5 separate regions of the Homo sapiens genome follow, and all the other regions are linked to region 2. The links come from fine-mapping of genetic effects on gene expression. A gene starts in region 2. Each other region holds a variant in brackets. All regions are shown on one strand. Distances are from middle to middle. Region 1 overlaps LOC283299 (a long non-coding RNA gene). Region 2 holds the start of OVCH2 (ovochymase 2). Region 3 overlaps LOC107984307 (a long non-coding RNA gene). Region 4 has its middle 12 kb from the start of OR5P3. Region 5 overlaps LOC283299 (a long non-coding RNA gene).

What was found. PIP is the estimated chance that this variant, and not a neighbour inherited with it, causes the effect.
Region 1: its variant is the best candidate, but not a certain one, in a credible set for the expression of OVCH2 in sun-exposed skin (GTEx, PIP 0.89).
Region 3: its variant is the best candidate, but not a certain one, in a credible set for the expression of OVCH2 in prostate (GTEx, PIP 0.73).
Region 4: its variant is the best candidate, but not a certain one, in a credible set for the expression of OVCH2 in lung (TOPMed, PIP 0.62).
Region 5: its variant is the best candidate, but not a certain one, in a credible set for the expression of OVCH2 in fibroblasts (GTEx, PIP 0.50).

What each region holds. Positions count from the first base shown.
Region 1 is chr11:7,867,457-7,873,914 of GRCh38, reverse strand. All of the region lies in intron 6 of LOC283299 (a long non-coding RNA gene), which reads left to right. Among named protein-coding and RNA genes, the nearest start is that of OR5P3, 40 kb to the right of the region's middle. The variant G/C (reference allele first, on the strand shown) is at 2,483.
Region 2 is chr11:7,703,855-7,710,312 of GRCh38, reverse strand. It overlaps OVCH2 (ovochymase 2), which reads left to right and starts at 3,836. Exons shown (of 16, transcript NM_198185.7): 1 at 3,836-4,006; 2 at 5,639-5,748. The coding sequence starts at 3,919. It overlaps LOC105376533 (a long non-coding RNA gene), which reads right to left. Exons shown (of 11, transcript XR_007062576.1): 7 at 4,658-4,718; 8 at 4,035-4,088; 9 at 776-912.
Region 3 is chr11:7,910,924-7,917,381 of GRCh38, reverse strand. LOC107984307 (a long non-coding RNA gene) reads right to left here. Exons shown (of 3, transcript XR_001748116.2): 3 at 5,223-5,325. Among named protein-coding and RNA genes, the nearest start is that of OR10A6, 17 kb to the left of the region's middle. RefSeq lists an enhancer at 4,584-5,084. The variant C/T (reference allele first, on the strand shown) is at 3,456.
Region 4 is chr11:7,815,238-7,821,695 of GRCh38, reverse strand. No RefSeq gene overlaps it. Among named protein-coding and RNA genes, the nearest start is that of OR5P3, 12 kb to the left of the region's middle. The variant C/T (reference allele first, on the strand shown) is at 3,629.
Region 5 is chr11:7,879,215-7,885,672 of GRCh38, reverse strand. LOC283299 (a long non-coding RNA gene) reads left to right here. Exons shown (of 8, transcript NR_036678.1): 2 at 2,740-2,813; 3 at 3,600-3,717; 4 at 4,524-4,584; 5 at 5,914-6,078. Among named protein-coding and RNA genes, the nearest start is that of OR10A6, 49 kb to the left of the region's middle. The variant T/C (reference allele first, on the strand shown) is at 2,984.

The sequences.
Region 1 (6,458 bases), 160 kb before region 2:
TATTTATTTTCCTCTCTCTGGAATCTAGCAAAATCCATTTTCTGCCTCCTTTGTCAGAAGTTTCACAATGATAAGCCTTGATATGCATTTGTTTCTAGACAGTCTGTTGGGCATTTACATAACCTTTAGTATCACATCCTTTATATACTTCAGAGAGAGATATTGAGAATGGATTTTGGCTTTGGTGTGAGAGAAGATGGATCATAGTTTAAATGTACTGCCTTTTTATCTTTTATAGCTGGGAGGCAGCAACTAAGATCTTAGATTGATAAATCAGGAAAATAGTGGTATAATAAATGTTGGAGTTTTTATGGTGGCCAATAGAAATTTTAAAGGGAGATAATGGTTTTCAATTTTTCTACTCTGCTGTACTTTTGGAACTTTTAAAGCCATATTCATGTTTTGGTTTTAGAATTAAAATATAAAACAATATATAAAAATAAAAGTGTATATGCTCTGTGATCCAGCAATTCTACTTTTAGCAGTCTTATTCCAGAAGCATTCATTATCCTACTGTTTATTATGGCAATATTTGTAACAAAAAATGTTAATAGGCAAATGATTAAATAAATTGTAGTACTTCTGTGCTATATTCTATGTCCCGTGTGGTTGGAATTATCTTAGTTCCTCTCCCTACCTTCCTGCTTTGGCCCTAGAAACAGAAATATTCACCCTTTAAGAAGTAGGGGAAAATGGTTTCCACACTTCTCTTCATCTCACAATGACATGTGAAGACATGAAAAGAGTGATGACTTATCTGATTGGTGAGATCAGAAGAGACTGGACTAGTCATTTATTTATTCTCTCTTCGAACCAGATAATGTATTCTGTGTTCTCTATAGTAAGACCTGCAGGGGAAGCCTTTGCACTGTCAAAAGACCTGCTAGGTCATAAATCCAGCTGGGCTTCTCTAATTCAGCTGCATAAAGAGTTCAGATTTAAATTTAAGTGAAAAAAGCAAGGCAGAGAAATATATATACATATAATATGTGTGCATATATATGTTATTTGTATATGTATATATACATATTTATAGATCATAGATCTCAAATATTTAAGAAAGATAATATTTGCATATCCTATATATGAAATGCAGAAGAGTTTCAGAAGTATGCATATCAAATTGTGAACTCTTGTTTCCATGAGGTAAGTAATAGCAGGGAGGAGTAAGAGGGATTTTTACTTTTTATCTCAATGTATTGTTAAAATATTTTAGTTTCTATAACCACATATTTATTGATGCAATTAAAAGTTTGAGGAACAAAAATACCCTGGAAGAGAATACATGAATATTTTCATGTATAGTGGTTCAATAGTGGTTATCTCCAGAAAGTGAGTTGTGGAAGTCTATATCATTTATTTGTTTAATATTTTAAAACAATAACCTTGTATTACTTGTTATGATTCATAAAAATAAGATAATATTAGTTTTTCATCATAGGCAATAGCTAGCCTCTCCCAGATCATGTTGCTTGATGGCTGTGATCATGGTCACAGCCTTTCTTTTTTTCTTACATTTTGAGAATGCTTTTATTGCTTCAAGTCTAAAATTAACATGTTTTCTCGTTTTTCTTCCTTAGTAGAATTAATTAATTGACATAGTTTCTATTCATATCTGACCCTCTGAAATAAACCTTACCTGGTCATGGTGTGGACTGTTTAATACATAATGTATTGAATTCAAATGGCACGTGTTGGACTTAGAACTTTTGGCTTTATCTTCACAACTGATATTGGGTTATAGTTTTTGTGTGTGTGTGTTTCTGGCTGTGACATCAAGGCTATGTTAGTCTCAAAGAACGAATTTGGAAATCTTGTAAATAAAACTTCCACATCTCCCACACTTCTGCTATTTTTAATAGTGATTATGCACAGTGCAAGTGCTAAGTACTGTGTTCTTATATACTTCTTAAAGTTTCAGTAGCTGCTATACAGCTTTTTTCTTATTTCTAATATTGTGTCTTTAAATTTTTGCATTTTTCTTAATTAGATTTTTTGGAGATTTTCCTGTTTAATGAGTTTTAAAATAGAAGGCCCAGCCTTTAGAACTAGTTGTATATCCTATTATACTCCTGTTTTTCTAACTAGTTTTCTTCTTCTTATCATAACTTCTTACTTTGACTTTTATATATTTTGTTCTTCTTGCTTTCTGAGTTGAATGTGCAGTTTGTTTTTCATTTCCTAGGTTTAATAATAAATATGCATAATAATAATAGCATTAATAATTATGCAGTTTTTCTGAGGACAGCTCTGATTGGAGAGGGCCCTTATTTCCATACTTATCTCCATGATACTTTGACTTAACCCTGGTAGGGCACAGGAATGGAGTGCAAGTTTCAGATACAACTTGTGTGACTTTTATGTTCATGGAAGAATTATTGTTAAGTGTGCTTTTTTCCTTTTCTTCTTATTGGAAATCTATGTGACATTTTTATTTTAAAAATAGGGTTTTTCTGCTTAAAAAGGCTTAACACTGTTGACT[G/C]TGTTTATATTTACTCTATTTAACTTTATTTTCTTCACACTGCATTGACTTTCTGTGAGGAGATGAGTCACATAAAATTCTATCATTCCTGTCTGCTTCTGCCTAGAGCACTCTAAATGCATGGTGGCTACCATCATTATTACTGCACCCCTTCCTAGCCTCACCTCTTGCTCAATTCTGTTCAAGAGGATTTCAAAGGAAGTCAGAAATAAGAATAGTATTCAGCATGACTCACAGAGCAGTGCTGCAGAAATAGAGGTGGATGGACACATTCTATTTTTTCATTGGTACAGGGACTAGGTAAGGCTAATTACTGAAGACACAGAAATATAAATACTAAATTTTATGATAAGAAAATAAAACATACTAGAAACAACATACATTTTATTTATAAAAATCCAAAACATTGTTAAATGAAACAATACATGAAAGATAAAAATAAAAAATCTTGGCCGGGTGTGGTGGCTCAAGCCTGTAATCCCAGCACTTTGGGAGGCCGAGGTGGGCAGATCACGAGGTCAGGAGATCGAGACCATCCTGGCTAATACTGTGAAACCCCGTCTCTACTAAAAATACAAAATAATTAGCTGGGCGTGGTGGCAGGCGCCTGTAGTCCTAGCTACTCGGGAGGCCAAGGCAGGAGAATGGTGTGAACCCAGGAGGTGGAACTTGCAGTGAGCCAAGATCACACCACTGCACTCCAGCCTGGGCAACAGAGCAAGACTCTGTCTCAAAAAAAAAAAAAAAAAAAAAAAAAAAAAATCTTAGTGGGGAGATGGTAGATGAAATGAAATGGTGAAATGACTGGTTGACTAAAACAGAGAAAGAATAATAAAAGCAATCTAAAAAGATCATAATTAAACTTATTTAATTATGTGAAAGTGAAACATGGGTATTGCATATTATTGAATTAGTGCTAGATACACAAAGTTGAGAGACTCTTCCACAATGCAGAAAGTAATATGAGCAAAAAATGATGAAAGAGAGATGATGAAAAATAAGGAGTACAGAGTCTGAAGATCCAACATACAGATAATAGGCATCTCTGAGGAAGCATTTATTTACTGTGAATCAGAAGCCATAATAGATTAAAGAAAATTTCATAAACTAAAAAAATGTGATTCTATAGAATGAGAATATTCCCTGTATTTCAGGCAAAAATAATAATGAGAAGAGACCCACATGGAGGCAGATTGGTGAAGTTTTTGAATTTCACAAGGGACAGAAATCAAATAGTTTCAAGAAGTCTAAAGAACTTTGTGGGAAATGTTTATGAGCCAGCAATTTATGTGATAAGAGAATAGATATAGTCTCACTTAAATACGGCCTCTGAAAATGAATTATTTATGCACATTTCATTGAAAGTTATTCAAAGACATAATTATTTTGGCAAGAAATGAACCAAATATTAAATCAAGAATGAGGAGATACAGAGTTGAAAAAACTGAACTTGAACACTGATAGTTAAATTATACTGAGGTCTCTCATTTAATGCATATTTGTACCACGTTTTACAGAATGGGACCTTAAAATAATGTACATCTATTTTTTTCACATGTAATGACTTCATATATTTTTAAGCACAAAGAAGAAACTAAACAAAGAACAACTAACAAAGAAGAAATAAAATCTTAGTCTTAACCCCTCACCACAAGGCTTTTGGGTTCATGGCCTCTTGCAGAAGAATACACAACAATAACAGCTGTGCTATTGTCCATGTAGTGTTGAAATCTGCACACACATATTATGCTTGTTCCTTCTGAAACAAATAGATGGGCCAAAAGGTCCTGTGACTCATCCAACTGCTGGACCAAAGATTTCCACCTCCATTGATTCTCTTCTCCAAACATCTTTGTGGGAAACCACACTGGATGCGGAATGGGAGTGAGGCTCACATGATAAGAGAATTTGTAGATGGTTTGTTCTTTTTTGAATAAATTGTCCCTTGACCTAAATTGTCATAGAGGTTCTCAAGACAGTAATAAATGTTGGAGCAAAATTGAAATCTAGAGTAAATGTTCCTGAAATTTTTTTTCTTTTAGAAGGAAAGAACAGAACAGTTAGGGGAATCAATGATACAAATAAATAAAATAAATGTTTCCTGAGCTAATGAAAACTTCGTATCTTCAGGTTAGAAAGGCTCATTGAATGTCAGACAAAAACAAAATTAAAGAAAATATTTAGAAAAAAGGATTGACTCAAGAAAGTGAAAGATGTGGTAGAAAGAAAAGGTGATAAATAATAACTCCTCTGAAATAATTGTTTAAATAATTCCTGTTCATGTGATTTTGAAATAACATATAGGTTCATAAGTGATTTTTGTCATTGTTGTTGGGATGGAGTCTCATTCTGTCACCCAGGCTGGAGTGCAGTGGTGCAGTCTTGGCTCACTGCAACCTCTGCCTCCCAGGTTCAAACAATTCTCCTGCCTCAGCCTCCTGAGTAACTTGGACTACAGGTGCGCAGCACAACACCTGGCTAAGTTTTGTATTTTTAGTAGAGATGGGGTTTCACCTCATTAGCCAGGCTGGTCTTGAACTCCTGACTTCAGGTAATCCACCCACCTAGGCCTCCCAAACTGCTGGGATTACAAGCGTGAGCCACTGTGCCCAGCCCATCTGTGATTTTTAAAAGAGAAGATGCATTGTTAAAAAAAATTGTGATATGAATCTAAAATATTCAGATCATTGGGACTTGGGGTTATAGGGAGATAAGTGAGGAGGCAAACGTGTGATAAACTGTTTCTTTTATAGGGTGTATGTAAAAATCATGATGTATTCTGGAAAGTGATTCAAATTCAAATGCAATGTTTAAAATCACAGGCTGGGTGAGGTGTCTTACGCCTGTAACCCCAGCACTTTAGGAGGCTGAGGCAGGAGGATCGCTGGAACCCAGAAGTTCAAGACCAGGCAGGGTGACATAGTGAGACCCTATCTCTAAAAATTTTTTTGTTTGTTTGTTTTTTTGAGACAGAGTCTCACTCTGTCACCCAGGCTGGAGTGCAGTGGCGCGATCTCGGCTCACTGCAAGCTCCGCCTCCCGGGTTCAGGCCATTCTCCTGCCTCAGCCTCCCGAGTAGCTGGGACTACAGGTGCCCGCCACCACATCCGGCTAATTTTTTTTTGTATTTTTAGTAGAGACGAGGTTTCACCATGCTAGCCAGGATGTTCTTGATCTCCTGACCTCATGATCTGCCCGCCTCGGCCTCCCAGTGTGCTGGGATTACAGGCGTGAGCCACCGTGCCCAGCCAAAAATTTTTAAAATTACCTAGGAGTGGTGGCGCGCGTCTGTAGTCCCAGCTACTCAGGAGGCTGAGGTGAGAGGATCACTTGAACCTGTGAGGTTGAATCTGCAGTGAGCCATGATTATACCACTGCACTCTAGCCTGGGTGACACCCTTTTTCAAAAAAAATCACAGATAACCAGTAACTAGCAAGTAAAATATGAAGGAAAGATAATCACTAGCGCAAAGTTAGAAAAAAGAAAAAGCAAAAAAGTGTAAAATTAGGAAAATGAAAACATACTAATAGAAAAATATGATGATAAAGTTTGACCAAATGCCATATTTATAAAAATAAATGTGAATAATTTAGATTTGAATTAAAAGATGAATATTCTCAAATTATATCAAAAGTAAAATTTAAATATAAGGTGTTTACAAGGGACTCAACTAAAGCAAAATAACTGATAAATTTTAGCAATAAAGTGATGGCAAAAATATAGCATGTAAGTAATTCATAATTTTTTTTAAAACCTGGCTGGGCGCGCTGGCTCACGCCTGTAATCCCAGCACTTTGGGAGGCTGAGGCGGGCGGGTCATGAGGTCAGGAGATCGAGTCTGTCCTGGCTAACATGGTGAAACCCCATCTCTACTAAAAATACAAAATATTAGCTGGGCGTGGTGGCAGGGGCCTGTAGTCCTAGCTACTCGGGAGGTTGAGGCAGGAGAATCCCTTGAACCCGGGAGGCGGAGGT
Region 2 (6,458 bases):
CTTTTTCTTTTTGGCTCCTACCAATCACTAGCTTCAAAACTGACACAAAAGAAAGAAAGATGCACTTGCTCGATTTATCTTCTCAACTGGCCTCCTTCACCACTTCATAATTGTTGGAGATAACTTTTTTATTGTCCTAAACTACTTCTTTTTTTCTGGCTTTCTCACTCATCTACATCTCCTGCTAACTTCCTTTCTCCGTCATACCATGAAAATTTTGTCTTCATAAAAGCTAGTATCTTGGAGACAAACTACAGAGACTGAAGCATAACACATCAAGTTTTCAACAAGAATACGGGGGCTAATTGTATCTTTTCCAAACAGACTCCTGTTTCCTTTCCCCTATTTTCCTGTTTTCTTCATACCTGTGTGTGAATTTTTTTGCTTTTGCCAACACTGACTCAGGCAAATCCCTACACGATTTCCCTTCTGTTCCCTCTCATTTCTGGCCAGCTCACTTTTGCCTAAGTTTGTTTCTTTGCTATCTATCTCCTGTGCTTAGTATGTATAGGAACTTTCCCCACTCTTCCTTTCTCCAGTATCGCTGAAATTCCTGGGTATAACTAAACCACTTTCTGGAGTACTCCCATTTCTATTCTAAGACTCAAACAGTGAGAAGGGGCAAAGTGATCCTTCCTTTGCATGATTCATATCATCCCTCAGTTCCAAATCATCTCTTCCCTTTTAAAATTTATTTTTAAAAATACCCTTATTGTTTTTGATTATCCTTGAGGCATTCTCAGATTGTTCTTAATTATTTTACACTTCAACTTACCTTGCATGTACCTTTAGTGTCATCTCTTAGTTGCAACAGGGAATATGCAAGGTGTTTATAAAGGAGGATTCAGTGGTTCCCACTTAGCGATTGGATTAAGTTGGCAGCCTGAGACCATACGGTGTGTCCTCCTGCTCCTGCTCCAAATTTATGATAAGAAGGATGTATTAAACAAATGAACTCATAGCAGTGCTGGAAAACCTGAACAAGGAAAGCTACTTTTAGTGGCCCCAAATTATGAATATTTCTAGAACGATAAAAAGTAGATGGAATTCAATTAAGGAAAGAACCACAACCTAACATGCCTGTTAGGAGAAAACTGCTGAAAAAGTTCTGGAGTAGACCCACTCCAATTTATTCCAAGTAAGAACCAGTTGGTGTTTTCCCCTGGGAGGGAGATGTGAGGGGGTATTTGGGCCCATGGGGCAGGGCAATTCCAGGTGGCTGGAAACTTCAGGGAGAATGAGAAGCAGACAGGTCCAGAAACCCAACTCCTGGGACTCTCTACCAGACAGTACATTCTGTTACTTTCTCTGGGCCACTGGAGGTGGCTGAGAACATTCCTGGTGATGAGTGTTTATGGCACTGTTGACCAAAATTGAGGCTGTCAAGACAGAAAAAAATCTATAAAGGTTTATTGAACCTCAAATGTGTGGATTGACCCAGGAAGACACAGCAACAAAGTTGGAGTGTTCTGAGGTCTGTCAGAAGGTGAAAGGTTTTGACAGAAAAATCTGAAAAGACAGAGAGAGATTGCTCATACTGGAGTTGTTCTCTTTTCATTGGAGGGTACAATACAGAAGTTATAATCATTAGCTATGGATTATATCACAGGGTTATAGGAACACATTAAAGTCACAGCTCTGCAATCAGCAAAATACAGAATGTAGAAAATGCTAAAGGTCTAAATAACCAATTCTTTCAACAAAAATAATTGCTGCAAAAAAGAGAGAAGAAGGTTATAACAGGTAGACCTGAGATTTTCTAGGTATAGAATCATATCATCTGTGAAGAGAGACAGTTTTGCTTTCAGGAGAAATTTTGATACTAATTTCTCAACTTGGGGATTTACAGACAGGGAAAACAATGTATTTGAATTCCAAATCCATGTTTGGTGCAGACTTTGGTCCAAGATTCTCAAGAGAGATTTTTTCCCCTTTAAAAGGTTTAATAGTTTCATGAATGAAAAATTGATTTTATACTACCATGCCAAGCAACACTTTAATATATTCCTGTCTGCAAGTAACTACAATGTACAGTTATTATAATTCCTATCCAGACCCTGGGAGGGTTGAATAGCTGGACTTACAAAAATATAGTGTCTTAGAACCTGCTACATCCCCCATGAAGAGCAAATATTTTAACAGCAAGGGGGCCACATTTTAGCCCCTTAAGAGATGAAAGTAACAAACTCTTAATGACCAGCTTCATGTGGTGAAGAGTGTGTTGATGTGTACTGATAGTTGTGCTGATGCAAGAGCTTGAAGCAAATACCCTCTCCTGAAATTAAGCACTAAGCAAGAGCTCATCATATTTCTGTGTGACAATCAATAAAAACGCTCCACTCCCACATTTTACAAAGGAAAACTCATCATTCTTTCAGTATAGAGTCAAATTTTATTGTCCTATGCTATGTGCCTACTTTAGGCTTGTCAAGTTTAGTGCATCCTAGGCCCACACTAGGTCTTTCTGCACTTTTGACATTAACAGTATACACATTTTAGACAGAATGTAGTGAATTTGGGGTCAGAAAGGCCATATTCCTAGTCAAGTTGCTCTCAAAAGTGATTGATAAAACACAATAGCAATTTAAAGGGAGCTTGCTGTCAAAGAAAGATTGAGACTTTGATTAGGGCTTAGACATTGATTGATTACCTCTTGGGGCTATCACTCCATACCAATAGCCAAAAATGTTTGGCATCAGGATTACAGTAGTTATAGATAAAGCCTCAATAGAGGTTTGAGTTTCCTTCTTTCCATAAGGCTACATTCTTGATTAGTGTACCTAAATATGTAGTGCTTACAAATGTTAAGTTTTTACACCTTCTCTGTTTTGCATTTATATTATTTGTATGTGTTGTATTTTCATACTTTTTTGTACAAAGACAAAAGTTGCCAAAAGGAAATTAAGAGCTTTTGGGCTGACATTTGTTATTTTTAGTGGGTAACTTATAAAAGTTGACAGAAAAATGTTATATTTCTATCTGGTCATAGATGGCATTGACCATCCTATAAATATTTCTCACACACTGACCATGTGCCCAAAACTCGTTGAGGAAAGAGGAAAATGTACAGGTAATCATAGCCACTTTACTCTCCCAAGCATCTACCAGGCATAGAAGTAAAGGAGATTTAGTGTTTCCCTTCTATAAATACAAAAATGATAGGAGAATGCAGAGTCACAAATGCCCCAATGTACAGTATCCTAGATGACTTTCTAACAGCAGGGCTTCCTGAGTGTGACACCCAAATATCTTTCCACTTCTCTCATTCACCAACATATGTTTATAATAACCATGTAGTTACATTTGCAAAATAAGATAAATAAAAATATTTTAGAATATTGGCTGGGCGTGGTGGCTCACACTTGTAATCCCAGACCTTTGGGAGGGCAAGGCAGGCAGATCCCTTGAGCCCAGGAGTTTGAGATCAGCCTGGGCAACATGATGAAACTCCATCTCTGCCCAAAAAAATTATATACATTTGGATGGGTCGTTTGCAAAAAAGTAGGGAAGTGTACCCTTGCAAACAAGGACAACATTGATAGTCAATCTTCTTATAGAAAGTGGTAAAAGTGGTAAGCTCTACAAAGGAGCAAGTAATGTTTGCAGATGCAAATCTTACATGCTAACCACTTTGCTAGCCAGATACACTCTGGAGGAATCAACTAATTGGTGTAGGTGTAATAGGATATGTAATATTGCTTGATCAAGACTCTGCTTCTGTGGTTGTTTCTCCACATCTTCCAAAAGATCTTTGCGAAACACTACATTCAGAAACATCAGATGGACATGCTTGATTCACCACGTCTTGGTTAATGAATAAACTTGTTTTAAATTGGCTTATTGCTGGTCTCTCAAGGCTTCCTATTTTTGTTTGCTTTAGTCTCTCTAAAATTTCAGGGAAAAACTATGAGTCTCAAAATGCTTATAAGCAGGAACAAGCTGATTTTACTACTAGGAATAGTCTTTTTTGAACGAGGTAAATCTGCAACTCTTTCGCTCCCCAAAGGTAAGTTTCAAATGAACTCTATAATTACCTTTGTCTGAACCTTTGCTGGCAATGGACGTCACAACTCCGAGACTCCATGTTCCTTTGGGAAAATAGGAGAAGCAAATATATTTTGGATATCTAATTGTTTTTAAACAATTATTTTGGACTTATCTCCTGCAATCGGCATAGGACACAGGGTGAAACATTTATAGAATGCAACTAATGTATCCAATTAAGTAAACAATCCCTGTTTTCTTCGCTTAGTTTTCCTAAGTGAACTGAGATTGTTCACTTACTTGAACCCATTACATAATCCCATCTTGGTTCATAGAGCAAATTCTGGAAATCAGCATGGATTTGGAAGCATTTTTAATCTTTTACAAAATCATCTTGCTGAGAAATATGAAGCATGTTCACTGTAGTATATTATAAATGGTCTTTTTTCCCCTTCAACTAACTTAAGCTGAAAACAGTTCTTGGAAGATTTCTCCTTGGTCAGACTTGTGCCAACCCTGAGAATCAACATGTTTTCTGACTTTGCTTTACTGAATTTGGGAAATAGTAAATTTTGTATTTAAAGTATTTATGACTCATTCAACTGAAACAGTTAGAAAATAAGCTTTTGTTCCAATGTCATCCTGGCACTGGGTTCAGGATCAAAACACTTACTGTTACATTCATGCTCTGCCATTATCCAGCTGTGTGTCTCCTTGATTCTCAGTTTTCTCATCTGCAATGTGGGGATAACAGTGCTTCATTTATAGGCATAGAGTGGGATTAAATGAGAAGCTGTATGAAAGAGCTTTGAATATTTTAACATGTTGATCTAAATAGCTATACTCTTAAGGATGTGTTCTCAAGAAAAGTCATTTGTTTGTCCATCCAGTGTTTCTAAGTGCTTACTTATGCCAAGAATTAAGCTAAACCTTAGAAATGCAGAGGTGAATAAGGCAAGTTTTTTCCCTTGAGTAGTTCATAGTCCGATGATAGAGGCAAATAATTCATTATCACAATTCTGCATGACAAGAACTATAAAAGGGGTGAAGAAAGCGTGCTACACAACACAAGGGAGAGGCAATCCCACTTTGAGGAAATCAAGGAAGACTTCCTGGTTGAGGTGATCTCCAAGCTGAGGAATAAGAATTACAGAATTTAGGTAGGCAATGAAGCATGGTGATTATGAAGCAAGGCTAGTTCTAATCCTCCTTCAAAATATGGAAAAGGATGACCTCCAGGAGGGACAGAAGATGTGCCATCCTTGAGTTACCAGGTGATGTTAAACATCTTTAATCTAGTCTACCTCTTTGCTGAGGAGTCAGAAAACCCATTGAGGGCAAATAAATAAAAACAACTTTTTCAGGGATAAAGTATTTTACATAAAGAGGGAGGAGTTTTTTCTTCTATTACCTAGCAAACCTCTATCCGAGTACCAACTTGTGAATCAGGACACTTCACTCCACTCTCCTTAAATGACCTGTCACTTTTCATCCCTCAAGAGAATTAAATCCAATAAAGATTTATTGATATCTGAATGTGTGCTGAGCACCATACACCATAGTCTCAGACTCAGTTTCATGGGTGAAATGGAGAAGATATTACCTCAATCCTAGAAGCTATCTAATCATTTAGTTTGTCTCGTTTTTTTCTCAGCTCCCAGTTGTGGGCAGAGTCTGGTTAAGGTACAGCCTTGGAATTATTTTAACATTTTCAGTCGCATTCTTGGAGGAAGCCAAGTGGAGAAGGGTTCCTATCCCTGGCAGGTGAGTCTCAAGGACTTCTATGCATCAAGAACTGTGCTAGATATTATGGATATAGATATTTTTAAGGTTAAGTTTATATCTTTGAGGAGCCTACAGCCTAGTTGGGTTGAAAGACAGAATAGTCATCATGGCATGTGATGAATGTCATAAGAAAAAGTATTTACTTGTACATAGTAAGTCATTTTAGAATCAAATCAAGTATCACAAATAGGATAAGCAAAAATTAGAAAGTATATTGGAGAGGTAGGGTAAAGAATAGGCTTGAAGAAGCTATAGGGGTCAAATAGTTAAGAGTATGAGAAAAGTGGTAGATCCAAACCATTTCCCTAAGAGGCTTAGAGAAATAGGAGTATGTGTTGAAAGGCTCCCCAGCCCTCACCTTGCCTTTCTTCCAAACCTCTTCAGCTGGACTCTGCAATATCTTATACTATTTTACCTTCATTCACAGACACTGTTCATATTGTTAGAGCAACAGGTCTGCATCAACTGTGTTATAAAAATAAGTAAATACATCTCACCACTTCTAACTGCTACCTCTGTTGACACATACTTACAGCCAGTCATCTCAAATTAACTACCTCTCATCTAGACCAGGGTTGCCAGCACCACTCTTCTTTCTGAGCGGTAGTGTCTGGGCTTTATCTTTTCACAGTCCACGATTCTTGACATTTACGAGTGTGATATCTGAGTCTGGTTTTGAGAATAGGCTT
Region 3 (6,458 bases), 210 kb before region 2:
ACCTAGGACCTCAGGTCCTCAGACCGACCAGCCCAAGAAACATCTCACCAATTTCAAATCAGGTAAGCGGCCTCTTCTTACTCTCTTCTCCAACCTCTCTCACTGTCCCTCAACCACTTTCTCCTTTCCACTCTTCAATCTCTCCCTTCTCTTAATTTCAATTCCTTTCATTTTCTGGGAGAGACAAAGGAGACACATTTTATCCGGGGACCCAAAACTCCGGGGCCAGTCACGGACTGGGAAGGCAGCCTTCCCTTGGTGTTTAATGATTGCAGGGATGCCTCTCTGATTATACACTCACGTTTCAAGGGTGTCAGACCACGCAGGGATGCCTGCCTTGGTCCTTCACCCTTAGCGGCAAGTCCCGCTTTTCTGGGGCAGGGGCAAGTACCCCTCAACCCCTTCTCCTTCACCCTTAGTGGCAAGTCCCACTTTTCTATGGGGCAAGAACCCTCAATCCCTTATTTCCACACCCCAACCTCTTATCTCTGTGCCCCAATCCCTTATTTCCACACCCCAACCTCATATCTCTGTGCCCCAATCCCTTATTTCCGTGCCCCAACCTCATATCTCTGTGCCCCAATCCCTCATTTCTGCACCCCAATCCCTTATTTCCATGCTCCGACCTCTTATCTCTGTGCCCCAACCCCTTTTCCCACTTTTTTGGAAGGTAAGAACCCCCAAACCCCTTCCCTCCGTTTCTCTACTCTCTCTTTTCTCTAGGCTTGCTTCCTTCACTATGGGCAACCTTCCACCCTCCATTCCTCCTTCTACTCCCTTGGCCTGTGTTCTCAAAAACTTATAACCTCTTCAACTCACACCTGACCTAAAACCTAAATGCCTTATTTTCTTCTGCAATGCCGCCTGACCCCAATACAAACTCGACAGTAGTTCCAAATAGCCAGAAAATGGCACTTTGAATTTTTCCATCCTACAAGATCTAAATAATTCTTGTCATAAAATAGGCAAACGGTCTGAGGTGCCTGACATCCAGGCATTCTTTTACACAACAGGGCCTTCCTAGTCTCTGTGCCCAGTGCAACTCATCCCAAATCTTCCTTCTTTCCCTCCTGCCTGTCCCCTCAGTACCAACCCCAAGTGTCTCTGAGTCTTTCTAATCTTCCTTTTCTACAGACCCATCTGACCTCTCCCTTCCTCCCCAGGCTGCTCCTCGCCAGGCCGAGCTAGGTCCCTATTCTTCCTCAGCCTCTGCTCCTCCACCCTAGAATCTTTTTATCATTGCCCCTTCTCACACCTGGTCCGGCTTACAGTTTCGTTCCATGACTAGCCCTCCCCCTCCTGCCCAGCAATTTACTCTTAAAAAGGTGGCTAGAGCTAAAGGCACAGTCAAGGTTAATGCTCCTTTTTCTTTATCCCAAACCAGATAGCGTTTAGGCTCTTTTTCATCAAATATAAAAATCCAGCCCAGTTCATGACTTGTTTGGCAGCAACCCTGAGACACTTTACAGCCCTAGACCCTAAAAGGTCAAAAGGCCGTCTTATTCTCAAAACACATTTTATTACCCAATCTGCTCCCGACATTAAATAAAACTCCAAAAATTAAATTCCGGCCCTCAAACCCCACAACAGGATTTAATTAACCTCACCTTCAAGGTGTACAATAACAGAAAAAAGTTGCAACTCCTTGCCTCCACTGTGAGACAAACCCCAGCCACATCTCCAGCACACAAGAACTTCCAAACACCTGAACCGCAGTGGCCAGGCATTCCTCCAGAACCTCCTCCCACAGGAGCTTGCTACACGTGCCAGAAATCTGGCCACTGGGCCAGGGAATGCCCGCAGCCTGAGATTCCTCCTAAGCTGCGTCCCATCTGTGTGGGACCCCACTGAAAATGGACTGTTCAACTCACCTGGCAGCCACTCCCAGAGCCCTGGAACTCTCGCCCAAGGCTCTCTGACTGACTCCTTCCCAGATCTTCTCGGCTTAGCGGCTGAAGACTGACACTGCCTGATCACCTCAGAAGCCCCCAGACCATCACGGACGCTGAGCTTCAGGTAACTCTCACAGTGGAAGATAAGCCCATCCCCTTCTTAATCAGTACGGAGGCTACCCACTCCACATTACCTTCTTTTCAAGGGCCTGTTTCCCTTGCCTCCATAACTGTTGTGAGTGTTGACGGCCAGGCTTCTAAACCTCTTAAAACTCCCCAACTCTGGTGCCAGCTTAGACAATACTCTTTTAAGCACTCCTTTTTAGTTATCCCCACCTGCCCAGTTCCCTTATTAGGCTGAGACACTTTAACTAAATTATCTGCTTCCCTGACTATTCCTGGACTACAGCTATATCTCATTGCCACCCTTCTTCCCAATCCAAAGCCTCTTTGCGTCCTCCTCTTGTATCCCCCTACCTTAACCCACAAGTATAAGATACCTCTACTCCCTCCTTGGTGACCGATCATGCACCCCTTACCATCTCATTGAAACCTAATCACCCTTACCCCACTCAACACCAATATCCCATCCCACAGCATGCTTTAAAAAGATTGAAGCCTGTTATCACTCGCCTGCTACAGCATGGCCTTTTAAAGCCTATAAACTCTCCTTACAATTCCCCCATTTTACCTGTCCTAAAACCAGACACGCCTTAGAAGTTAGTTCAGGATCTGCGCCTTATCAACCAAATTGTTTTGCCTATCCACCCTGTGGTGCCAAACCCATATACTCTCCTATCCTCAATACCTGCCTCTACAACCCATTATTCTGTTCTGGATCTCAAACATGCTTTCTTTACTATTCCTTTTCACCCTTCATCCCAGCCTCTCTTCGCTTTCACTTGGACTGACCCCGACACTCATCAAGCTCAGCAAATTACCTAGGCTGTACTGCAGCAAAGCTTCACAGACAGCCCCCATTGCTTCAATCAAGCCCAAATTTCTTCCTCATCTGTTACCTATCTCGGCATAATTCTCATAAAAACACACGTGCTGTCCCTGCCAATCGTGTCCGACTGATCTCTCAAATCCAAGCTCCTTCTACAAAACAACAACTTCTTTCCTTCGTAGGCATGGTTAGTGCGGTCAGAATTCTTACACAAGAGCCAGGACCATACCCTGTAGCCTTTCTGTCCAACTTGACCTTACTGTTTTAGCCTAGCCCTCATGTCTGCGTGCAGCGGCTGCCGCTGCTTTAATACTTTTAGAGGCCCTCAAAATCACAAACTATGCTCAACTCACTCTCTACAGTTCTCATAACTTCAAAAATCTATTTTCTTCCTCATACCTGATGCATATACTTTCTGCTTCCCGGCTCCTTCAGCTGTACTCACTCTTTGTTGAGTCTCCCACAATTACCGTTGTTCCTGGCCCAGACTTCAATCCAGCCTCCCACATTATTCCTGATACCACACCTGACCCCCATGACTGTATCTCTCTGATCCACCTGACATTCACCCCATTTCCCCAGATTTCCTTCTTTCCTGTTCCTCACCCTGATCA[C/T]GCTTGATTTATTGATGATGGTTCCACCGAGCCTAATCGCTGCACACCAGCAAAGGCAGGTTATGCTATAGTACAAGCCACTAGCCTGCCGCTTAGAACCTCTCATTTCCTTTCCATCATGGAAATCTATCCTCAAGGAAATAACTTCTCAGTGTTCCATCTGCTATTCTGCTACTCCTCAGGGATTATTCAGGCCCCCTCCCTTCCCTACACATCAAGTTCAAGGATTTGCCCCCACCCAGGACTGGCAAATTAGCTTTACTCAACATGCCCGAGTCTGGAAACTAAAATACCTCTTAGTCTAAATAGACACTTTCACTGAATAAGTAAAGGCCTTTCCTACAGGGTCTGAGAAGGCCACCGCAGTCATTTCTTCCCTTCTGTCAGACATAATTCCTCAGTTTAGCCTTCCCACCTCAATACAGTCTGATAACAGATGAGCCTTTATTAGTCAAATCAGCCAAGCAGTTTTTCAGGCTCTTAGTATTCAGTGAAACCTTTATATCCCTTACAGTCCTCCATCTTCAAGAAAAGTAGAATGGACTAAAGGTCTTTTAAAAACACACCTCACCAAGCTCAGCCACCAACTTAAAAAGGACTGAACAATACTTTTACCACTTTTCCTTCTCAGAATTCAGGCCTGTCCTCGGAATGCTACAGGGTACAGCCCATTTAAGCTCCTGTATAGACTCTCCTTTTTGTTAGGCCCCAGTCTCATTCCAGACACCAGACCAACTTAGACTGTGCCCCCAAAAAAACTTGTCATCCCTACTATCTTCTGTCTAGTCATACTCCTATTCACCATTCTCAACTACTCATACATGTCCTGCTCTTGTTTACACTGCCGGTTTACACTGTTTTTCCAAGCCATCACAGCTGATATCTCCTGGTGCTATCCCCAAACTGCCACTCTTAACTCTTGAAGTAAATAAATAATCTTTGCTGGCAGGACTATGCTGAATCTCCTTAGGCACTCTCTAGTCAGCTATCCTGAGTCGTCCCAATTCTTAGACCTTTTATACCTGTTTTTCTCCTTCTGTTATTCCATTTAGTTTTTCAATTCATACAAAACTGTATCCAGGCCATCACCAATCATTCTATACGACAAATGTTTCTTCTAACATCCCCGCAATATCACCCCTTACCACAAGACCTCCCTTCAGCTTAATCTCTCCCACTCTAGGTTCCCACGCCGCCCCAATCCCGCTTGAAGCAGCCCTGAGAAACATCGCCCACTCTCTCTCCATACCACCCCCCAAAAAATTTTCACCGCCCCAGCACTTCAACACTATTTTATTTTTCTTATTAATATAAGAAGGCAGGAATGTCAAGCCTCTGAGCCCAAGCCAAGCCATCGCATCCCCTGTGACTTGCACGTATATGCCCAGATGGCCTGAAGTAACTGAAGAATCACAAAAGAAGTGAATATGCCCTGCCCCACCTTAACTGATGACATCCCACCACAAAAGAAGGGTAAATGGCCAGTCCTTGCCTTAAGTGATGACATTACTTTGTGAAAGTCCTTTTCCTGGCTCATCCTGGCTCAAAAAGCACCCCCACTGAGCACCTTTCGACCCCCACTCCTGCCCGCCAGAGAACAAACCCCCTTTGACTGTAATTTTCCTTTACCTACCCAAATCCTATAAAACGGCCCCACCCTTATCTCCCTTTGTTGACTCTCTTTTCGGACTCAGCCCGCCTGCACCCAGGTGAAATAAACAGCCATGTTGCTCACACAAACCCTGTTTGGTGGTCTCTTCACACGGACGCGCATGAAAGTTTCCCCTCTTGCCTTTCTTGATGGAGTGATAGCCCCTTGTGGTCTGGTGCTGCCCCAATTCTTGAATCTCTGAATGCTCCGATAAACTCTCTAAAATTGAAATGTACTTAAGTTTTTCTTTCATCATAAGGAAGTGCTATTCTGCAGCACGCACATGCAAAGCAAGAACAGTTGCTACCAGGTAGTTAAGACGGAAATGAGCATAAGACTATGTAAAGGCAGAGATTTGGGGCCACCTTCTAGAGCTGTGCCCACAAGAGGCCCCTAACTGATAACTGCCCACTCTGATTCTCTGAATGAGCTACATTATTGCGTGTATGCTGCACTCCTCTGGGCACCTGGAACCTCTTAGCCACCAAGGCAGCAGCACATTGTTTAAAGCATCTCCTAGCCTTCACTCAGTGGCTTCCGGCAGAGTGGTGATGCCAGACATCACTTACAGTGCTCACTGTCTGTGGGGAACAGAGGGTCCCATCAGACACACGTCTGTTTCAGCCAGTTTCTGAGAAGCCCACAGAGAGGACAGTGACAATGTTCTGGGACTCTGGTTGCTTCAGGTGTTGCCTGGGCTCTCAGAAGTCTAAGAAGATCATTATTTCCTGGTAAACTTTTAATGCATTTGAAATATACCAGTTCATCCTAGCACGTTAACTGAGGAGATGTGTGCTTCTCAAATTTTAGGGTGCAAAAGCATCACCTGGAGAGCTGATTAAAACAGATTCATGGACACCTCCCCAGAGATTTGGATTCAGTTGGTCTGGGGTGGGGCCCAAAAACTTGCATTTCTAACAAGCTCTTAGTCCTTGCTGATCCAGAATTACACTTGCAGTAGCCCTGTCCTACAGGATAGTTTAAATATTTGAGACTTATTAAAGGAGTTATTTAATAATAAATGTAAAGTACTTAGAGCTATGCCTGGCATATGATAATCACTTAACAGATGTTGAGTTTCAACATTTGCTATTTTGTGGTTTGTCTGGGTTGGAGAGCAGAACCTTTATGTAATTCCTTTAATTGGTAAGGCTTTAAGCAAGCATTTTCTTGTTTTCCCCAGCTATCATTCCCAGGTTTGTGAAAATAATCAGATATTTTAGTATAATACTGTTGTTATTTTTTCTATTATACCTCTTTTCATAGCCTTTCATTTATTATTACATTATATGTTGTTATACATGACAAATTATTTTAAAATTGAACTATAAGATTTTCTGATTTAAAAATGG
Region 4 (6,458 bases), 110 kb before region 2:
TTAGAAGACAACCTAGGCAATACCATTCAGGACATAGGCATGGGCAAAGACTTGATTGCTAAAACACCAAAAGCAACAGCAACAAAAGCCAAATATGACAAATGGGATCTAATTAAACTAAAGAGTTTCTGCATAGCAAAAGAAACTATCATCAGAGTGAAGAGGCAACCTACAGAATGGGAGAAAACTTTTGCAATCTATCCATCTGACAAAGGACTAATATCCAGAATTTACAAAGAACTTAAACAAATTTACAAGAAACAACCCCATCAAAAAGTGGGTGAAGGATATGAACAGACACTTCTCAAAAGAAGATATTTATGCAGCCAACAAAAGTAGGAAAAAAAACTCATCATCACTGGTCGTTAGAGAAATGCAAATCAAACCACAATGAGATACCATCTCATGCCAGTTAGAATGGTGATCATTAAAAAGTCAGGAAGGCTGGGTGCAGTGGCTCACACCTGTAATCCCAGCACTTTGGTAGGCTGAGGTGGGCAGATCACGAGGTCAGGAGATTGAGACCATCCTGGCTAACATGGTGAAACCCCGTCTCTACTAAAAATATAAGAAATTAGCCGGGCGTGGTTGCGGGCACCTGTAGTCCCAGCTACTCGGGAGGCTGAGGGAGGAGAATGCCGTGAACCTGGGAGGCAGAGCTTGCAGTGAGCCGAGATCGCACCACTGCACTGCAGCCTGGTGGACAGAGCAAAACTCCATCTCAAAAAAAAAAAAAAAAAAAAAAGTCAGGAAACAACAGATGCTGGAGAGGATGTGGAGAAATAGGAACACTTTTACACTGCTGGTGGGAGTATAAATTAGTTCAACTATTGTGGAAGACAGTGTGGTGATTCCTCAAGGATCTAGAAGTAGAAATACCATTTGACCCAGCAATCCCATTACTGAGTATATACCCAAAGGACTATAAATCGTGCTGCTATAAAGACACATGCACATGTATGTTTATTGCGGCACTATTCACAATAGCAAAGACACGGAACCAACCCAAATGTCCATCAATGATAGACTGGATTAAGAAAATGTGGCACATATACACCATGGAATACTATGCAGCCATAAAAAAGGATGAGTTCATGTCCTTTGCAGAGACATGGATGAGGCTGGAAACCATCATTCTCAGCAAACTAACACAAGAACAGAAAACCAAACACCACATGTTCTCACTCATAAGTGGGAGTTGAACAATGAGAACACATGGACACAGGGAAGAGAACATCACACACCAGGGCCTGTCAGGGGATGGGGGACCAGGGAAGGGATAGCATCAGGAGAAACACCTAATGTAGATGACAGGTTGATGGGTGCAGCAAACCACTATGGCACATGTGTACCTATGTAACAAAACTGCATGTTCTGCACATGTACCCCAGAACTTAAAGTATAAAAAAGAATAGAATAAAAATATTATTTTTTCTTGAAAAAAAACATGACAGCCACTGATTCAAAAAAGACTTTGATAATTTTTATCATCAATTTGTGTTTAAAAAGCCTTAGCAAAATTGAAATAGTGTAATTACTTCATCTGGGAAAAACTACTCATGTTTTGAAAGCTTTTCCTTCATGTCTGAGAATGAGAAAGAGATGCCATTGTTAGCATTTCTATTCTTCGTGGTATGGATGACACTAGCCAGGGCACTATAACAAGAAAAGGAAATAGAAGGCATAACAATAGAAAAAAAGAAATAAAGTATCATACAAGATGACCGTTTATGTAGAAAATAATAAAATAAAAATAAATTATCAATACTAGAGATTTTTTAACAATATTGATGGAAAAACAAAATAAAAGCAAAAGTTTTATTTCCTTTTAAAATTTTTTAAATTTTTATGGGTACACAGTAGGTGTATATATTTATGGGGTATAGGAGATGTTTTGATACAGGCATGCAATGTGTAATAATTACATGATAGAGAATGGGGTATCCATCCGCTCAAACACTTGTCCTCTGTATTACAAACAACCCAATTATACTCTTTTAGTTATTTTAAAATGTATGATTAAAATATTATCGATTGTAGTCGCCCTGTTGTGCTAGCAAATGCTAGGTTTTATTCATTAATTCTATTTTTTTGTACCAATTAACCATCTTCACTTCCCCTCCAACCCTCTACTGCCTTTCTCAACCTCTAATAACCATCCTTCTACTCTCTATCTCAATTAGTTCAATTGTTTTGATGTTTATATCACACAAATAAGTGAGAACATGTGATATTTGTCTTTCTGTACCTGGATTATTTCACTTAACATGATGCTCTGCAGTTCCATTAACATTGTTGCAAATGACAGGGCCTCATTCTTTCTTACGGCCAAATAGTACTACATTGTGTCTATGTACATTTTCTTTATCCATTCATCTGTTGATGGACAGTTAGGTTGCTTCCAAATCTTGGCTATTGTGAACATTACTGCAACAAACATGGGAGTACAGATATCTTTGATATACTGATTTTCTTTCTTTGGGGTATATACCCAGCAGTGAGACTGCTGGATCATATGGTAATTCTATTCTTGAGGAACCTCCACACTGTTCTCCATAGTGCTTGTACTCACTTACATTCCCACCAACTGTGTACGAGGTTTCCCTTTTCTCCACATCCTCGCCAGCATTTGTTATTGCATCTTTTAGATAAAAGCCATTTTAACTGGGGTGAAATGATATATCATTGTAGTTTTGATTTGCATTTCTCTGATGACAAATGATGTTGAATACATTTTCATATGTCTGTTTGCCATTTGTATGTCTTCATTTGAGAAATGTCTATTCAAATCTTTTGCCCATTTTAAAAACTGGATATTTTCCTAAAGAGTTGTTTGAGCTCCTTATGTATTCTGGTTATTAATCCCTTGTCAGAGGGGTAGTTTGCAAATATTTTCTCCCATTCTGTGTGTTGTCTCTTCACTTTGTTTATTGTATCATCTGCTGTGCAGAAGCTTTTTAACTTGAGGTGATCCCATTTGCCCATTTTTGCTTTGGTTGCCTGTGCTTGTGGGGTATTGCTCAAGAAATTTTTGTCCAGACCAATGTTCTGGGGACTTTGTCTAATGTTTTCTTGTAGTGGTTTAATAATTTGAGGTCTTAGAGTTAGGTCTTTGATCCGTTTTGATTTTATTTTTGTATATATAGAGAAACAGGGGTCAGTTTCATTCTTCTGCATGTGGAAATCCAGTTTTCCCAGCATGATTTATTGAAGAGACTGTCTTTTCCCCAGTGTACGTTCTCTCTTCCTCAGTGTATGTTCTTTGCACCTTTGTCAAAAATGAGTTTACTATAGGTGTGTGGATTTGTTTATGGGTTCTCTTTTCTGTTCCATTGGTGTATGCATCCATTTTTATGCCAGTATCATGCTGTTTTGTTCACTATAGCCGTGTAGCATAATTTGAAGTCAGGTAATGTGATTCCTCCAGTTTTGTCCTTTCTGCCTATGAGAGTTTTGGCTACTTGGGCTCTTTTCTGGTTCCATATAAGTTTTAGGATTGTGTTTTCTATTTCTGTGAAGAATGTCATTGGTATTTTGATAGAGATTGCACTGGATCTGTAAACTGCTTTGAGTAGTATGGACCGTTTAACAGTATTGATTCTTCTAATCCACAAGCATGGAATATCTT[C/T]CCATTTTTTGTGTCCTTTTCAATTTATTTCATCAGTGTTTAACAGTTTTCTTTGTAGATATCTGTCACTTCTTTGGTTAGTTCCTAGTTATTTAATTTTATTTGTGACTGTTGTGAATTGGATTCTGTTCTTTATTTCTTTTTTATATTATTCACTGTTGGCATATAGAAATGCTACTGATTTTTAAAATGTTGATCTTGTATTGTGCAACTTAACTGAAATTGTTTATCAGCTCTAATAGTTTTTTTGGTGGAGTCATTTGATTTTTCCAAATATAAGATTATATTATCTGCAAATAATGATAATTTGACTTCTTTCTTTCTGATTTGGATGCCCTTTATATTTTTCTCTTGTTTGCTCTAGCTACAACTTCCAGTACTATGTTGAATAACAGTGGTGAAAGTGGCCATCTTTGTGATGTTCTAGGTCTTAAAGGAAAGGCTTTCAGTTTTTACCCATTCAGTATGACACTTGTTGTGGGTCTGTCATATATGGATTTTATTATGTTGAGGTATGCTCCTTCTATAGTTTTTTTAAATGTTTTTATGATGAAGGGATGTTGAATTTTATAAAATGCTTTTTCAGCATCAGTTGAAATTATTATATGGTTTTTGTCCTTCATTTTGTTAATATGATGTACCACATTGGATTGATTTGCGTATGTTGAACCATCCTTGCATCCCTGTGACAAATCCTACTTAGTCATGATGAATGATTTTTAAAAAATGTGTTGTTGAATTTGATTTGCTAGTATTTTGTTCAGGATTTTTGCATCAATATTCATCAGGCATATTGGGGTATTGAAGTCTCCAGCTATTATTGTATTGAGTCTATTTCTCTTTTTAGCTCTAATAATATTTCCTTTATATATCTGGGTGCTCCAGTGTTGGATGCATGTATATTTAATATTGCTATAATCCACTTTCTGAATTGACCTCTTTATCACTATATAGTGACACTTTGTCTCCTACAGTTTTTGTTTTGAAATCTATTTTGTCTGATATAAATATAGTGACTCCTGGTGTTTTTTGGGTTTCCATTGTCATGGAATACTTTTTCCATCCCTTTGTTTTCAGTCTATGTGTGTTTTTATAGGTAAGGTGTGTTTCTTGGCAGAAACAGACCAATGGGTCTTGTTCTTTCATACATTTGGTCAGCCTACGCCTTTTGATTGGAGAGTTTAGTCCACTACATTCAATGTTATTATTGATAGGTAAGGCCTTGCTCTTGCCATTATGTTATTTGTTTTCTGGTTGTTTTGTGGTCCTCTCTTCCTTCTTTTCTGTCTTCCTGTCTTCCTTATAATGAAGGTGATTATCTCTGGTGATATAATTTATTCTCTTGCTTTTTTTTGTATATCTATAATATGTTTTTTGGTTTGAGGTTGCCATGAGGCTTGTAATTACCCATTATTTTAAGCTCATAACAACTTAATACTGTTTTCATAAACAAATAAACAAAAAGAAAACCAATAAACAGTTTAGCTTCATCTCCCCTGCTTTTTAATTTTTTTGTTGTTTTTATTTATACTTTATTGTCTATGTCTTGAAAAGTTGTTGCAGTTATTATTTTTAATTGGTTCATCATTTTGTTTTTCTACTAAGGTATGAGTAGTTACATACCATGATTACAGTGTTATAATATTCTGTGTTTTTCTGTGTAGTTACTACCAGTGAGTTTAGTACCTTCAGGTGATTATTTAGTGCTCATGTACGTCCTTTTATTTCTGCTTGAAGTACTCCCATTAGCATTTCTTGTAGTGCAGGTCTGCTGTTGATGAAATCCCTCAGCTATTGTTTGCTGGGAAAGTCTTTATTTCTTCTTCGTGTTTGAAGATGTTTTCACCAGATATGCTATTGCAAGGTAACCTTTTTTTTTTTTTTACTTCAGCACTTCAAATATGTCATGCTGCTCTCTCCTAGCCTTTTCCACTGAAAAGTCTACTGCCAGACATGTTAGAACTCCATTGTAAGTTATTTTTTTTTTCTGTTGATGCTTTTTGAATCCTTTCTTTATCCTTGACCTTTGGTAGTTTCATTATTAAATGACTTAAGGTAGTCATTTTTGGATTAAATCTGCTTGGTGTTCTATAATCTTCTTGTACTTGAATGCTGATAGCTTTCTCTAGTTTTGGGAAGTTCTCTGTTCTTATCCCTTTGAATAAACTTTCTTCCCCTATCTGTTTCTCTACCCCCTGTTTAAGGCCAATAACTCTTAGATTTGTCCTTTTGAGGCTATTTTGTATATTCTATAAGAATGCCACAATTACTTTTGCACCAACCTAATATCTCCTCTGTGTATTTTCTTTTTTTATTTTTATTTTTTAATTTTTTTATTATACTTTATGTTCTAGAGTACATGTGTACAACATGCAGGTTTGTTACTTATGTATACATGTGCCATGTTGGTGTGCTGCACCCATTAACTTGTCATTTACATTAGATATTTCTCCTAATGCCATCCCTTCCCGCTCCCATGACAGGCCCCTGTGTATGATGTTCCCTGCCCTTTGTCCAAGTGTTCTCATTGTTCAAGTCCCACCTATGAGTGAGAACATGCAGTGTTTGGTTTTCTGTCCTTGCGATAGTTTGCTCAGAATAATGGTTTCCAGCCTCATCCATGTCCCTGCAAAGGACATGAACTCATCGTTTTCTATGGCTGTATAGTATTCCAGGTGTATATGTGCCACATTTTCTTAATCCAGTCTATCATTGATGGACATTTGGGTTGGTTCCAAGTCTTTGCTATTGTGAATAGTGCCACAATAAACATACATGTGCATGTGTCTTTATAGTAGCATGATTTACAGTCCTTTGGGTATATACCCAG
Region 5 (6,458 bases), 180 kb before region 2:
CCTAGCAAATTATTTTAATTTGTGGTTATACATCTTTTCCTTATTTTAATTTTATGTTTTTTTCCTTTCTTTTCTTACATCTCTTTCTTTTTCTTTTCTCCCTTTGGTAGACTTATCCAGGATGTGCCAATTATTGGTTATTGCAAAGAAGTAGATATTTCCTCATTAAATCAAGTATACTGGTTTTCTGTAATTTATTTAATTCATGCTTTTATATGTATTAATTCATTTCCACCACTTTTTGCATTATGATTAGTGGTATTTTTCTAGCCCCCTTGATTGAATATTTCATTTTATAAATCACCCTAATTTTAAATTAAATAGTGTTAAGGCTACAAGTTTTCTTCAGTTTACCACTTTGGACAAATAGTGATATACAATGCATTCCTTTGATGATAGTGATCCATTTCTAGTTATGCCATAAAAGGAATATATTTAAAAACTCAAGATATTTATAAGAGGTATTCATTTTTAAGTGCTTAGAATTTTTTTTTCTATTTTCTGTTATCATTTTCAGTTTTAATTTATTTCGATAAACACTGTACTCTATATGACTTCTATCTTTGGAAATCTATTAAAAACTTCTTTGCAGCTGAATCTATGGCCAATTTGTGTGTGTCATAAGCATTTGAAAAGCACGTGTCCCTATTGGGATCTAAAGTTAAGCACACACTCACCCACATGCATTCACACACACACACACATCTAGTGTTTTCTGCTTCATTTTAATGTTCATGAATCAGTTCACTTGATCATTTACCTGCTGCCACCTTGATCATTTACCTGCTCCACTTCTGAGTGGAGCTCAGAAGCCCCTGTCCCGGTGGGCTCTTCAGGCAGCCTGTCTGCTCATCTTGGCTGACTCATGGGTTGCTGCCATGGCAAAGAGGCCTTGACTGCTGTTGACCCTGGATAGTCTGGGCAGTCAAAATAAAAATGGAGTCAGATGGAGAATTTCAAGAAATATCACATAGAATTGCTCACTTAGTGACTGATAGGTCATGGTGATGGCAGCAGCAGGGAGGCATTGCCAGGGCTGCATGCTCCATGGAGCTGGCGGGATCCTTGGACAAGCGGGAGCCCTGCCTGTTCCGAGTTGGGGTTGGAGCTCCCAGGGTGCCCTGCAGCTACCCACACTGCAGCTGTAGACCTGGGCCTCCTGCTTCATGGAACAGGCAGGAGCCCCACCCTCCCAGGTGCAGCTGCAACAACCGGATCAGTGGCTACAGATCCGGGCCTCCCACTTCGTGCAGCAGGAGCAGGAGCAGGAGCCAGACCCTCCCCCTTTCCCTGCATCCCTGAACTCTTGGGGGCTGAGAAGGACCCCTGCCCTTGTAGACTCAGAAGTGCCTGCTCCCACTGCCTGCCTGGCTTCTCCCCTGCTGTTGGTACCTGCTCAGATCTTAGAGAAGTCTGGGTGAGCTTTGGCACCATGAATGGCAGCAGGAGGCAAACAGGTTCCTGGGCAGAAGAGGGCAGTCCCAGTAAGGCCCCACCTTCAGGCCAGGGAGGGCCTGAATTCTGGGGGCTGGGCCGCCAGTCCCGCAAACTGGAGTGGGGGCTTCTGGTGCCTTTTCCAGGACCTGCCACCCATGGCCGCCATGGACCAATCAACACACACTTCCTCCCCTCTGAGGTCCATAAAAGCCACGGGCTCAGCAAGAGCCAGCAGAGGATGGAGAGAGGACTGGATGATCAGCCGCAGAGAGGAGATACTGTCTCTGCTGAGAGTTGGAGATAATGAGATGACCAGCTGCAGAGAGGAGCTACCCTCTCTGCTGAGAGCTGTAGAGATCACAGGATGACCTGCCAGCAGAGAGGAGCCACCCTCTCCAGGGCCTCCTCTGCTGAGAGCTGCAGATATCAGGATGACCAGTTGCAGAGAGGAGCTACCTTCTCCAGGCCCTCCTCTCTGCTGAGAGCTGAACACTTGACAGGACTACCTGCCTGCAGAGAGGAGCTACCTTCTCCAGGCCCTCCTCTCTGCTGAGAGCTGAACACTTGACAGGACTACCTGCCTACAGAGAGGAGCTACCCTCTGTGGGTCTCCTCTGAGCTGTCATAACACTCAATAAAGCTCCTCTTCATCTTGTTCAACTTCCACTTGTTTGCATACCTCATTCTTTCTGGACATAGGACAAGAACTTGGGCAAAGGTGTCACCAGCCAGCCACAGAGGTTTCTGGCCAGAAGAGTGACACCCCAAAGATCCCATTACAATGGGACATTAGGAAGAGGGAAAAATCAAGAATAAAAAATAATTTATGACAAATATGGAACTAGTCAGCTATGGAAAAATTATTTATACATAGTATTCTTTTTAGTTGATTTTCTTGGGCTTCATGAGCATCATCAGGAAGTAATGATAATTTACCTGTTTTGTTCCAATATTTATAGTCTCATAAGTCTGATGTTGGCTAAAATTTCAGAGACTTTTCTAGGTCTCAAGGAGTTAGAAAAGCCTGTTGAAATCTGGGTTATAACAACAAGCCCCCTATGACTCCCAGGGCTTCCAGTGCATTGGCATCATAGAGAGTTACAAGAGTTTAGGGTCATCCAGATACAGCTGGAACTCAGTGACCCACTTCCTCTGAGTTCACCTAAAGGAGATATAAATAGGGAGATGCGTCATCTTAATGGGGATCATTCTGATTAGGTATACAATCTTACTAAGCCAACTCAGAGGAGGTTGCAGTTCCTTGCCAATTTTTGATAGCATTGCGTTCATCCACTTTCTCAGGCAGGGACTATAGGAAATGAAGGTGAACTCGTGGAGATTTTGGAGAGAATTTAATGAAGAGGCTGTTTACCAAGGTATGGGCAGAATTAAGGGGAATCATGAGGGATGTTGAGGCACTCAGAGACTAGTAACAACATTAACTAAAAATAAAGCCATTAAGACCCTAGGCTTGAAATGGTGATAAGGAATTAGTGTCACCTGAGTGGCGGACGTGTGGCAGGGGGTTGCCTGGTTAGAGCACTAA[T/C]GGTAGAGGCACTAGACACTGCCAGAACCACAGTGCAAGGGGGAGCAGGGAGGAAACCAGAGACTACATCCCCTAACCTCTCTTCCCACACTTCCAACCTTTCGCTGGTGCTTTCAATCGGCTAGACCCAACCAGAATGCAGAGATCTAAGAGCCTGGGTGGTGCAGTGTGTGTGGTGTGTGTGTGTGTGTGCGCATGCGTGTGTGCAGCCCACTGGGGCACAGAGCAGAGTTGATCAGCGAAGGGCAAGAAAAGATTGTTACCAGGTCAGAAAAAGGATAACCAGAGCACACACTGGTGCTTGTTCCACTCAGTTGGGGCCGGGATACAGGGTGTGTTTTATATGCAATATATTGAAAATTATAGTACCTGAGGCAGAAGAATCAACCCAGGATTGCTGTTTTCTGATGTGGACTGTGGATGTGAAAAACACTAGGCAATAGAGATATAATCATAGCTACATTTTTATTCTGTGAAAACTATATATTATGAGCATTTGTCTTTTTCATTTCTTAACAAATATTTTTCAAAACTTTCATTTTATTTTTGATTTGGGTATACTTTAAGTACATAGAACATGTTATTTATTTATTTATTTGTTTATTTACTGAGACAGGATCTCTCTCTGTCTCCGAGGCTGGAGTGCAATGTTGCAATCAGGGCTCACTGCAGCCTCGACCTCCTGGGCTCAACTGATCTTCGTACCACAGCCTCATGAGTAACTGGGACTACAGGTGTGTGCCACTATGACTTTTGACTGGCCAATTATTTACTTTTTGTAGAGATAGGTCTTGCTATATTGCCAAGCTGGTCTCAAACTCTTGGGCTCAAGCAATCCTCCCGCCTTGGCCTCCCAAAGTACTGGAATTGCACAGTGAGCCACTGTGTCTGGCCACAGAACTTTTAAATTGTGCATTAAATCTGTTTTACCTTCATGATTCTGCCTTTGATACCATGCTTAGAAAGAATTTTCCTACCCTTAAGGGTTTATAAATTTCACCTACATTTCTGGTACTTTGTGACTTTTCCAAAAAAACCCTATATTTATTGCACAATTTATTGAAATATCCACATATTTTAAAAATATATTCATCTATATGTGTTTATAAATATTTATATCATATTTCTTTTCCTTTATGTGCTTATTATTTTCCTGGGCCAGTGCACTACACTGTTTTAGTTATTACTTTGTTATTGTTAGGATACATTTTAAATCTAGCAAAGAAAAGTTTCTTTCTTTGTTCTTTTTCCTATTTAAAATTTTTATTTTGGAAAATTAACAGAGAAATAAATGCTTTAAAAGGCTAGAAAATACAGACAAGCAATAAAAACAAGGAGAATATCCATACTCCCATCAGCTTAGAGATATAATATCTAGTTGTACACTTTCCCAGTTTCCTTTTTTTGTTTATAGTCCCTGCAAATTTTATGCATACATATTTTTACTTATAGAAATTAAATTATCTTATATATACTGTTTTGAATCCTTTTATTTGTAATTTAATAGACGACCATGGGCATTTTTTCTATGCAACTACAGATAGTATCTCATGATATGAATGGTCCTGGATTTACTTACACATCCTCCTTTGGATGAGCAAGTAAGTGGTTTCCAATTTTTTCCACTATTATACAGAATACGCAAATGAATATCCTTGCACTTACATGATTTATTTCTTAAAATAAATTCTTATGAGTGCAATTCTTTTTATAAAAGAAAATTATATTTTTAACTTCTCTAAATGTTGCCAGGTTTCCCTCCAGAAACATTTTACTCCTACTATGTATGAAATTTCCCTTTCCTCCTTAGCCTTGCTAGCAATGGGGGGGGGGTTTATGCTTACATTTTAAATCTTGGCTAACCTGATAGGTAAAAATTAATATATCGCTATTATTTTGTTTGCATTATTTTGATCATGAATAAAGTTGAGCCCTTTATCCTATATGTATTTTATTTTAAATGAATTTATGTATGTATACAGCCCATTAAAATATATATCCTATATTTATATATTTATATTATATAATATGTAATATTTATATATATTTTAAATTGGATTTTTTTGTTTGTGAGTACTTTTTATATAATATAAATACTAGATTGAATTGAATAGATTTCAAGTATTTTTTAGTTACCTTACAGTTTCTTTCCAATATCTCATACAAATATTTAAAACATGTATGGGATCAAATATGTCACCATTTTCATTTTGAATCGTGTTCTTGGTGTCATCTGCAGAAAAATCTATCCAACCTAAAGTTCATTAAAACACATTTTCCAATTTTTCCCACGGACACATTTACATTTGGCTGTGGTATAAGCTAGATATCCAGTATTTTTTTTTACCAAAAGAATAGTCTAGTCTTACACCACTTTTGAATAACATCTTTTCTGCAATAACTTGAAATACTTCTTTTATCTTATTTTTAGCTCCTAGATATACTTTGGTCTGTTGTCTGGGTCTGTTCTGTTTCATTGATCTATACTTTTATTTCTAGGTGACTTCCACAAAAAGTTAATTTTTGAGGCAGTTCATTGGCTAGGCAGAAATCCTAAAATACAAACCCATTCTGATTGGTTAATTAGGATACTCCCAGCTGAGAGATGTTGAAGGGCTGCAGACACTGAATTCAGTTGTTATCCAAGTCAGCTGGAACATTCTGTAATCCTTTAGCAGGTGTGAGTGCAATCCCCTTGCAATCTCCTGTCTCCACTTTAAAGCCTTAGCCTTAATTACTTCATTTTCTTTCACACGGTGAGAAGCTTGTACCGCTTTTTCCTAGCTCCTGTAATACTTTTGTTTTTCCTGTAAAGAAACCTCTTGGCAATGGTGGAGATTTGCACAGGCCCTAAGAGCCATTGATAACGATATCATTATTCGACACTGTCGTTACAAATCTATGTACCTTCCTGACTTTCATCTCCACAGAAAGTAAATTTTTCACAGTGATAGACATTTGTAGTGCTTTTTAAAGGCACTGGTTCTGGTGGACACTGAGAGACAATTTTTATTTGCTGCACGTGGAAAGGACAACAACATACCTGGACAGAAATGCCTCGAGGATGTACTGAAGGCCCCTCTCACTTTTCACAGGTACTGAAGACAGATTTAACGGACATTTATTTTCCCCAAGGGTCAACTCTCAGTAGGTTGATAACCTTTGTTTTCCTTGTAAAGAGGCTTGTGAACATGATAGCGTTTATATCCTTAAAATTCTAGCAGACAAAGGCCATAAAGTTTCCAGAGAAAATTCCAATTTACCAAGGAATGTCAAATATTTCAGATACTTGATACTAAACTAGGGACCTCTCTTGGATCCTGATAGACTTAAAAGCTTGTATGGTTTGGATCCGTGTTCCCACCAAGTCTCATGTCAAATTGTAATCCCCAGTGTTGGTGGTAGGGCCTGGTGGGAGGTGATTGGATAACGGGGGTGGGATTTTTCATGACTGATTTAGCACCATCCTCTTGAT